Homo sapiens: one gene and its partner. The protein of the gene in region 2 interacts with the protein of the main gene of each other region in a pairwise test. Each region holds a gene or a part of one and is shown on either strand. Other genes may lie near its edges.

Region 1 (3,842 bases), on a different chromosome or scaffold from region 2:
AAGTTTTTGTTTCCTAAATCCACAATTCTATTAAATGTAGAAAACAAATTCCTCTTTCATGATCTTCACTAGAAAATGATTATACATATGTCAACTCAGGTCTCATAAAATAGTCATTTCTGTGACTAGATATATATATATATGTATATATAGACAACCACTAAAAAAAAGACAAAAAATTAACATCTCAAAGAGCAAAGGCTTCCTCTGATGTGGGGAAACAATGGATTCTGGCTGAGATATAACAGAAATGTAGAAATATTTATTAAGAATCCACATCTTTTTTACATAGACACTATGCTTGCTAACATATATTAGAGAAGAGCTACTTTATATTCAGTTTTCAAAACCTATATCCATAGGAAGTATGAAGACCTTAATTATAAACACTTTTAAATTCTTAATATACATTTACATACGTTCATCACATATGTTCACTGATCATATTTTGGTCACTTGTACAGAAAAAATACTGTATAGAAATACATTCTGTACATTCATAAAAGTAGGGTAAAATTACTTACCCACCTGCTGCCACTGGCACTTACCTACTCAAAATGAAGTAGGGGACGTGGAAAGATAACAGGACCAGTGGCCAACAGGGGAATACAAGTAGAAAGGCAAAGTAAGGGTTACTGCATAGTAGCATAGCTACTCTCAAAGCTGTTCAAGAGGAAGCACATTTCATGGCACTTCCCATAAGATTAATGGGGAGTACCTAATTTGTAACAATGACATACAATGTATTACATTTCATAACTTACAGTATATATGAGTAAATACCTGGTTATCAGATAAATTTTTTCACCTAACCAGTAATCTTTCCCAACAGTAAAACAAAATATTGGCATTTGTAAATTGCTTATACTATAACACAAAGCTATAAAACAACACACCTAACTCAAAACTTTAAAAATGTTAAACCATACTAAAATGTATTCAGGTATTAAAAATCTATAAAAACCAAATTTTAAAAAATCTATAAAAAGCAGAGGATGATGACTGACAGGCTTATGTTAAGACAAGGGAATGAAGGCAAAAAAGGTTTCAATTATTTGTGAGAGAGGACAATTTGAGTCAGAAACAAAACAGCATTCATGATTTCAATATATGGCACTACTGCTTGTGCTCCATTTTACTAAATCAGTTTTAAAAACTGTCTAATTTTGAAAATGTCTAAAAAATTATGATTCAAGACTTATTATTCATTTTTCAACCCATTATCCAGTTAGATAGAGACAAAGGAAGCACAATTTCTTCCAATACTTCTCTTCGTCTGTCATCTGAATGGGTAGAAGTCATAATCTGGAAGGTAAATCATGTCTAACTGGCCCACTTTACCTCTTCGTGCAAATTCCATGGGGACAGATAAAGTTGGAAAATGACACAAGGCACAGAATCCTCTATACACGCCTAACCATTAGTTGAACAAAGCCACTTTGTTCAACCAGTAAGTCCTCTCAATAAAATAAAAAGGAACTATTACTTTTTTTTTGTTTTTGAAACGGAGTCTCGCTCTGTCGTCCAGGCTGGAGTGCAGTAGCGCGATCTCGGCTCACTGCAAGCTCTGCCTCCCGGGTTCATGCCATTCTCCTGCCTCAGCCTCCCGGGTAGCTGGGTCTACAGGCACCCGCCACCACGCCCGGCTAATTTCTTTTTGTATTTTTAGTAGAGACGGGGTTTCACCGTGTTAGCCAGGATAGCTACGATCTCCTGACCTCGTGATCCGCCCGCCTCGGCCTCCCAAAGTGCTGGGATTACAGGTGTGGGCCACCGTGCCCGGCCGGAAATATTACTTATTTTAAGCATGATTTTTTTAAACTTTTAAAATTTGACACTTAAACAACTTAAAAACGTGCTATCCTTTAAGTCAATAAGAAGTAGACTTCAACTAATGCAACGACAAAAATCAACAGATGCTAAGAACTTTTATACTTTTTTTTTTGAGACCAAGTCTGTTGCCCAACCTAGACAGAATCTGTTGTCTCCAGTTCTGTTGCCCAAACTGGAGTGCAGTGGCACAATCTTGGCTCACTACAGCCTCAACCTCCTGGGGTTTAAGCAATCCTCACACCTCAGCCTCCCGAGTAGCTGGGACTACAGGTGTGTGCCACCACGTCTGGCTAATTTTTTATTATTTGTAGAGATGGGGTTTTGCTAGATTGCCTAGGCTAGTCTTGAACTCCTGGGCTCAAGTGATCCTCATGCCTCGACCTCCCAAAGTGCTGGGATTACGGGTGTGAGCCATTGTGCCTGGCTGACTTTTATACTTTGATTGAGAAGAAAGAGAAATTATAAAATCCATCTTATGTCTTGGGATTGTGTGTAGAACACAAGAGAGTAAAGAACAAGATAACTACTGGGATTCTTCCATTTCTCTATTCCATGATTTTTTAGAAACAGTGTTTATCTCAAGATTGTGTAATGTTCTAGAGCAGAACAGAGTGAAGGATGCGATGGCTACCAGAGGTTCTTCACTCCCTCTTTTCATGATTTTCTAGATACGACTAATTAAGAGCTATGAATGTTCTTCACCATATGCTTACTTTCCCCCACCTATAGATTGCAAAAGTTATATAGGTTATATAAATTATTAAATATACTAGCACACAACTGTCATCTGTTAGTGTTTGGCAGGTGTCCAGTGTACTGCAAGCCGGGTTTAGAATCAGATGGAATGGATATGAATATTTACCATTTATAATTCTATGCCTTTAGTTGTATGCAAAAGTGACTAGCATAGTATATGGAATATAGTTGGTGCTCAATAAATGTAACTTTCCCTTTAATAATAGATTAAGTAGTCAATATATCCTACAGCTTAATATACTTACAGCTAGACTGGTGAATATTTAATTTCCTGTAAGAATGGAAAACATCACTATTTGCATGATATTCTGAGAGTATCAGTGCTATAATATCTGCTAATATTTACCTGAACAGTTATTAGTACATGTCAAGAGTTTTCAAAATGCATTTATAGCAGATACGTCTATCATAAAGAAGGCATTTGAAAGGGAGTAATGGGAGCAAGCATTTACTGGGTAACTACTGCACGTTAGGTTCAGTATCAGACACTCTCTATATATTATCTCATATAATCACATGGTAACATACAGAAATAATCATGATCTCCAAAGTACTTTAGTTCCTCAAAGCAGATAGGCAGAATCATACTACATATTAAATCTAGCACATAATGTATTTATTCCTTCACTTAGCAGTTAATTGACTTTAGTAAGTACTAAAGAGAAAAGCACTTTTTTTTCCTATAAATGCAACATAGAAATGAAAATAGGTAATAAATATTCTCCTTTATGGAATAGAAAATAATCATTTAAGAAATAAAATAAAAAATGAACTCACAGTGTAAATCCTCTGGAAATCACTTCGGTTTCTTGAATGAGACGTAAAGCTTTTCTCACGAGGTTAGTAAAAGCTCGGCTGTTTGTGGCCATATCTTCCAAATGAACGCTGTATTTTTTTAGGGTCACTTGTAGTTTGGCTGTCCTCCATAATCTCAAAGCTCTTATGACCAGATACACAAATAGAATCACTCCCCATACCAGCCAGGAAGACACAATCCACCAAGTGGGAAGCATAACGAGCAAGCTAATGAAGGCAAATAGCATTGAGAGATCCCTGGGAACAAGAAAGGAAGAAAATGATATGCATCAGATTAGAGAAAGAAAGATGAATTACTTTAATCAGTAAAAACAAAATTTAAATTTAGGTTTACTAAATAAATAAAATGCTAGCTTCTTTGTAAAGCATAACTTAAAAATATATGACATTTAAGAAGGTGATGTGAAAGATTTTTAAAATACCTCGCAACTAGACAA
Region 2 (3,842 bases):
GAGTGGGGATGCACTGGCAAGACCCAGCCACTCCTGCTAGAGCCCACCCTTTGGGGCCAGGAGCTGCGTGGCCCAGCTGACCACCTCATACCCACAGCCCACTAGGACCCTCCTTTCACACATCCCCCAACGGTACTCTCAGGTCACTGGGGGACCTGGTCACCCTTGGCTGACTCTTGGCTATGTCTGTGCTGCCGGGCAGGGTGGGCACAGGAAGCCTAGCGCAGAGCCCTGCCCCACAAACTCCCTCCCATGGAGGGTCATGCCCCAAGGTCCCAGCAACACCTTCACTGCCCCTGCCTAAAGGTGCCCTCAGGGTCATTCCCTGAAGTCGCTGCGCTGTCCCGCCAAATGGAATCAGAATTCTAACATGACGACACAAAACCTCATCTTCTGTGTAGAGGTGGAGCCTTCCCTGGAGTCTTGGGGGCAAGCAGCGGGCGCTGGGCCTGGGAATCACAGGTCAGCAGGCGGAACAAGGATGTGTCCAGTCCGGCTGACCGGGGCCTTCCCCAGGGTCCCCAGCTCAGCTCCTGCCTTGATGCCCACATTCGCCAAACATGGCCTCGCCTTTGGTTCTGAAGTCCAGGTGGTCTCCTGGCACCTTGGAAGGCATTAGAAAGGTTACATGATTCTCCGGGAAGTCAAGAGCTGGCCCCACACTTTCCTTATAAAACTTTTTTAGAGGGAAAGTAGCAGGGAGGTTGGTGGCGCGCGGCTTGGCTAGCGATCCCCGAGCATGCAGTCATGCTGGGCGCAGGTCCCTTAAGCAGCCCCCGGCTCCTGCAGGGCGTGGGCCAGCCTGCCCGCTCACCAGCACGTTGTCCACTGGGCTCATTTGTCCCTTGGCACCGAGGTAAGGCTGGACCCCCGGAGCTCCGTCCAGACGGTGGACTAATGTATTAACTGCCTCTGTCCCTCTCTTCCCTCTGTAATTGGGTGCCTTAATCAGAAGCATGGTTGACGTTCTGGCGTGGGGCCATCAGGTCCTGTTGTGTGATTTGTACCATCTCGAGTTAAAGAGACACTGTCACCTTCCGTCTTTCGGGCAGCCTTGCGGTCGTGGATGGGTCTCTTCTAAGTTCGGTTTTGGCGTTGTCCTGTGAGAGCCTCTTCCAGGGGGTTCCAAGGCCTGGCTGCCCCCCAGTTCTGCTCTACCAGGAACTTCAGAGGAGTTTCCAGAGTGCAAGGCCAGAGAGCAGGAGGCAGCCTTCTAAGGGCAGAGCTGTGGGAGGACTTCCAGGAATCACACCTGGGAACAGAGGGTGCCCAGAGCCGTGCTGGGGCCTGACTTCCTATGATCCAGGCCCATCTGGGAGATGAGCCAGGATGTCCCTGAGCCCGGCCGCTCTGTGGGAAGGCTCGGCACAGAACAAGAAGTGGCAAGGAGTCCAAGTCCATTAACCTTCATTGAGTGCCTGGCACGGGGCTGGGCATTTTTGCTTCAAGGCGAAAGGGTTGGCATGAGGTTGGCAAAGGCGACAGTGTCACTTTAATACCGAGACTCGTAGTGGAGATAGTTTGCTGTGAGCCGAGGGGGTAGGAGGGGGCATGTGGGGAGGGCCGGGTCTTGCTGGCACCTCCCAGCCACCCGCTCCTAATGGCGTGAATGTGGTCGGATTGCTTTTCTGCTTTAACTAACGCACGCCTCCTCTGGGACCCCAGCTGAGGCCCCCACCTTGCACTGTGGGAGAGGGGTGGGACCCACTGCAAGGCTGCCTCCAGGACCTCCCGCTGACCCTCTTCTTGTCCCGTGCCTGACGGGCCCTTGCAGGTTCTTCCCAGGAGACTCTGCCGGCCTTTTCCCCACCAGCCCCAGCTTGGCCATCCCTCACCCGAGTGTCGGAGGCTCTCCAGCGTCTCTGTTCATCCCCAGCCCGCCCAGCTTCCTGCCCCTCGCCAACCAGCAGCTCTTCCGGTCTCCTCGACGGACCTCACCCTCCTCATTGCCTGGCCGCCTCAGCCGGGCCCTCTCTCTGGGAACCATACCCTCTCTGACTCGAGCAGGTAAGGGGTGCCCAGGCATTGGCAGACAGTCAGGGCTAGGGGCAGCTGGGACAGAACTGTGGATGGGTACATAGTGTAGGGAGGGCCGGGAGTGGTTAGTGTTCCTGCTGCAGAGACAGGCAGCACAGAGCTTTGAGCCTCAGTTCCCCCCAAAGAAATGGGGCTAGCTAGGAATAGGTGGCTCATGCCTTTAATCCCAGCACTTTAGGAGGCCAAGGTGGGAGGATGGCTTGAGGCTAGGAGTTCAAGACCAGCCTGGGCAACATAGGGAGACGCTGTCTCTACAAAAAAAGTTGTTTTAATTAACTGGGCATGGTGGCGTACACCTATAGTCCCAGCTATTTAGGCTGAGGTGGGAGGATCGGTTGAACCCAGGAGTTGGAAGCTGCAGTGAGCTATGATCACGCCACTGCATTCCACCATGGGCAACAGAGCAAGACCCTGTCTCAACAAAAATAAAAATAAAGTGCCCAGAATTGCCATATCATCTGGGAGCCCCAGCACGGCCCCTTAGTCCCAGCTCTGGTGACATGACCTTGGGTAAATGTGTGCACCGTGCTGTGCCCTAATCTTTTCCTCTAAAATTGCAACATGCCCCTCAGCAAAGGGGGCCACTCTAGTTATTCTAGGGGAGGAGATGCTGATAACAGCCAAGGCCCCTCTCCTCTCGTGCAGTTACAGGGCAGGCCATTTTGTACACACGCCAAGGTTTATATTAGGATGCTTTTGCTTTTCCCCTAAGCAGAGATACCCCCCTATTTTCAGGGCACCCCAGCCTGGTGGCACTTGAATGGAACTTGGGGTGGGAGGTGCCAGGAGCAGCCCTGCCCTGGGCCTGAGCACTCCGAGTAAACTCTGTGCGCACTGACCAAGGTGGCAGAGCTCAGGGACTTCTGTTTCAAGCCCCTTGGGAGGGGAGCGTGGCAATCCCAGGGCCAGTTCAGGCCTCCAAGGCAGGGGCTCCTGCCCACAGAGAAGAACAGGCAATCTCCCTGTTAAGGCTCAAGGCAGGGACACAGTAGCGACCTGTCTGAGGTAGCAGCAGAGGTCTTGGGGCGCAAGCTTGTCTTGGAGTGTCCGGTGACAGATGGGACCCCAGTCTCCATTACCAGAGTGGGTCGGGGGGAGGAGCCCGGTCTCCATCGCCAGAGGGTGGGTCGGGGGCAGGAGTTCCTGCAGGGCTTTGGCTCATGTATTCAGAGACGCGCTGGACCGGGCTCAGGTGCTGTGGCCAGAATCCAGCTTGCTGTCTCCCTGTCTGTCCTCAGTCCGCTTCTCTGCCACACACCTCATCCCTGTGTCCTGCAGCCCATGCCCAGCAGGAAGACGGCCTCTCCCAGCATCCATAGAATGGATTCTAGAAGGACCCTGGTTGGCATGCTGGGTCCTTGTGACCACCCTTATCCAGCCTATCCCCTGGCCTGGTGAGGGGAGGGTTATCTGCATGCTGCAACAGACCCTTCAGAGCCCACAGGTGGCAACAGGACATGAGGCAGTCCCTGGGTCCCACATTCAGCTCTCAGCCAGCCACTTGGAATTGGGGCCCCTGCCCTTGGGGTGCGTGCGCCTGATTTAGGAAAAGGCAGCGTGGTTGGTGATCCCTGGGATCGAGAGAACAGGCAGTTGGGGTCTGCAATTAGTGGAGAAAGTGGGACTAGATGGCTGGAAAAGCAGGCCCTTCTGTGGGAAGAAGGGCATGGAACGAGGAGTGGACAATATGCCCAGTGCCGACTCTTCTCACCACCTGCTGTGAGCCTCAAGTTTCTTCCTGACCTCGTGATCTGATCTGCCTACCTCAGCCTCCCAAAGTGCTGGGATTACAGGCATGAGCCACT

Evidence for each region. The genes of interacting proteins can lie anywhere in the genome.
Region 1: the proteins of TMEM201 (region 2) and VEZT interact in a two-hybrid assay, tested with the Homo sapiens proteins (one large-scale study listed by BioGRID).

Annotation. Positions count from the first base shown.
Region 1 is NC_000012.12:95,266,157-95,269,998, reverse strand, and holds part of VEZT (vezatin), read right to left. Parts: intron 3,643-3,842; coding exon 3,367-3,642; intron 1-3,366. UniProt on the Homo sapiens protein: Plays a pivotal role in the establishment of adherens junctions and their maintenance in adult life.
Region 2 is NC_000001.11:9,605,783-9,609,624, forward strand, and holds part of TMEM201 (transmembrane protein 201), read left to right. Parts: intron 1-1,774; coding exon 1,775-2,007; intron 2,008-3,842. UniProt on the Homo sapiens protein: Critical regulator of angiogenesis and endothelial cell (EC) migration. Promotes the migration of endothelial cells, which is essential for angiogenesis.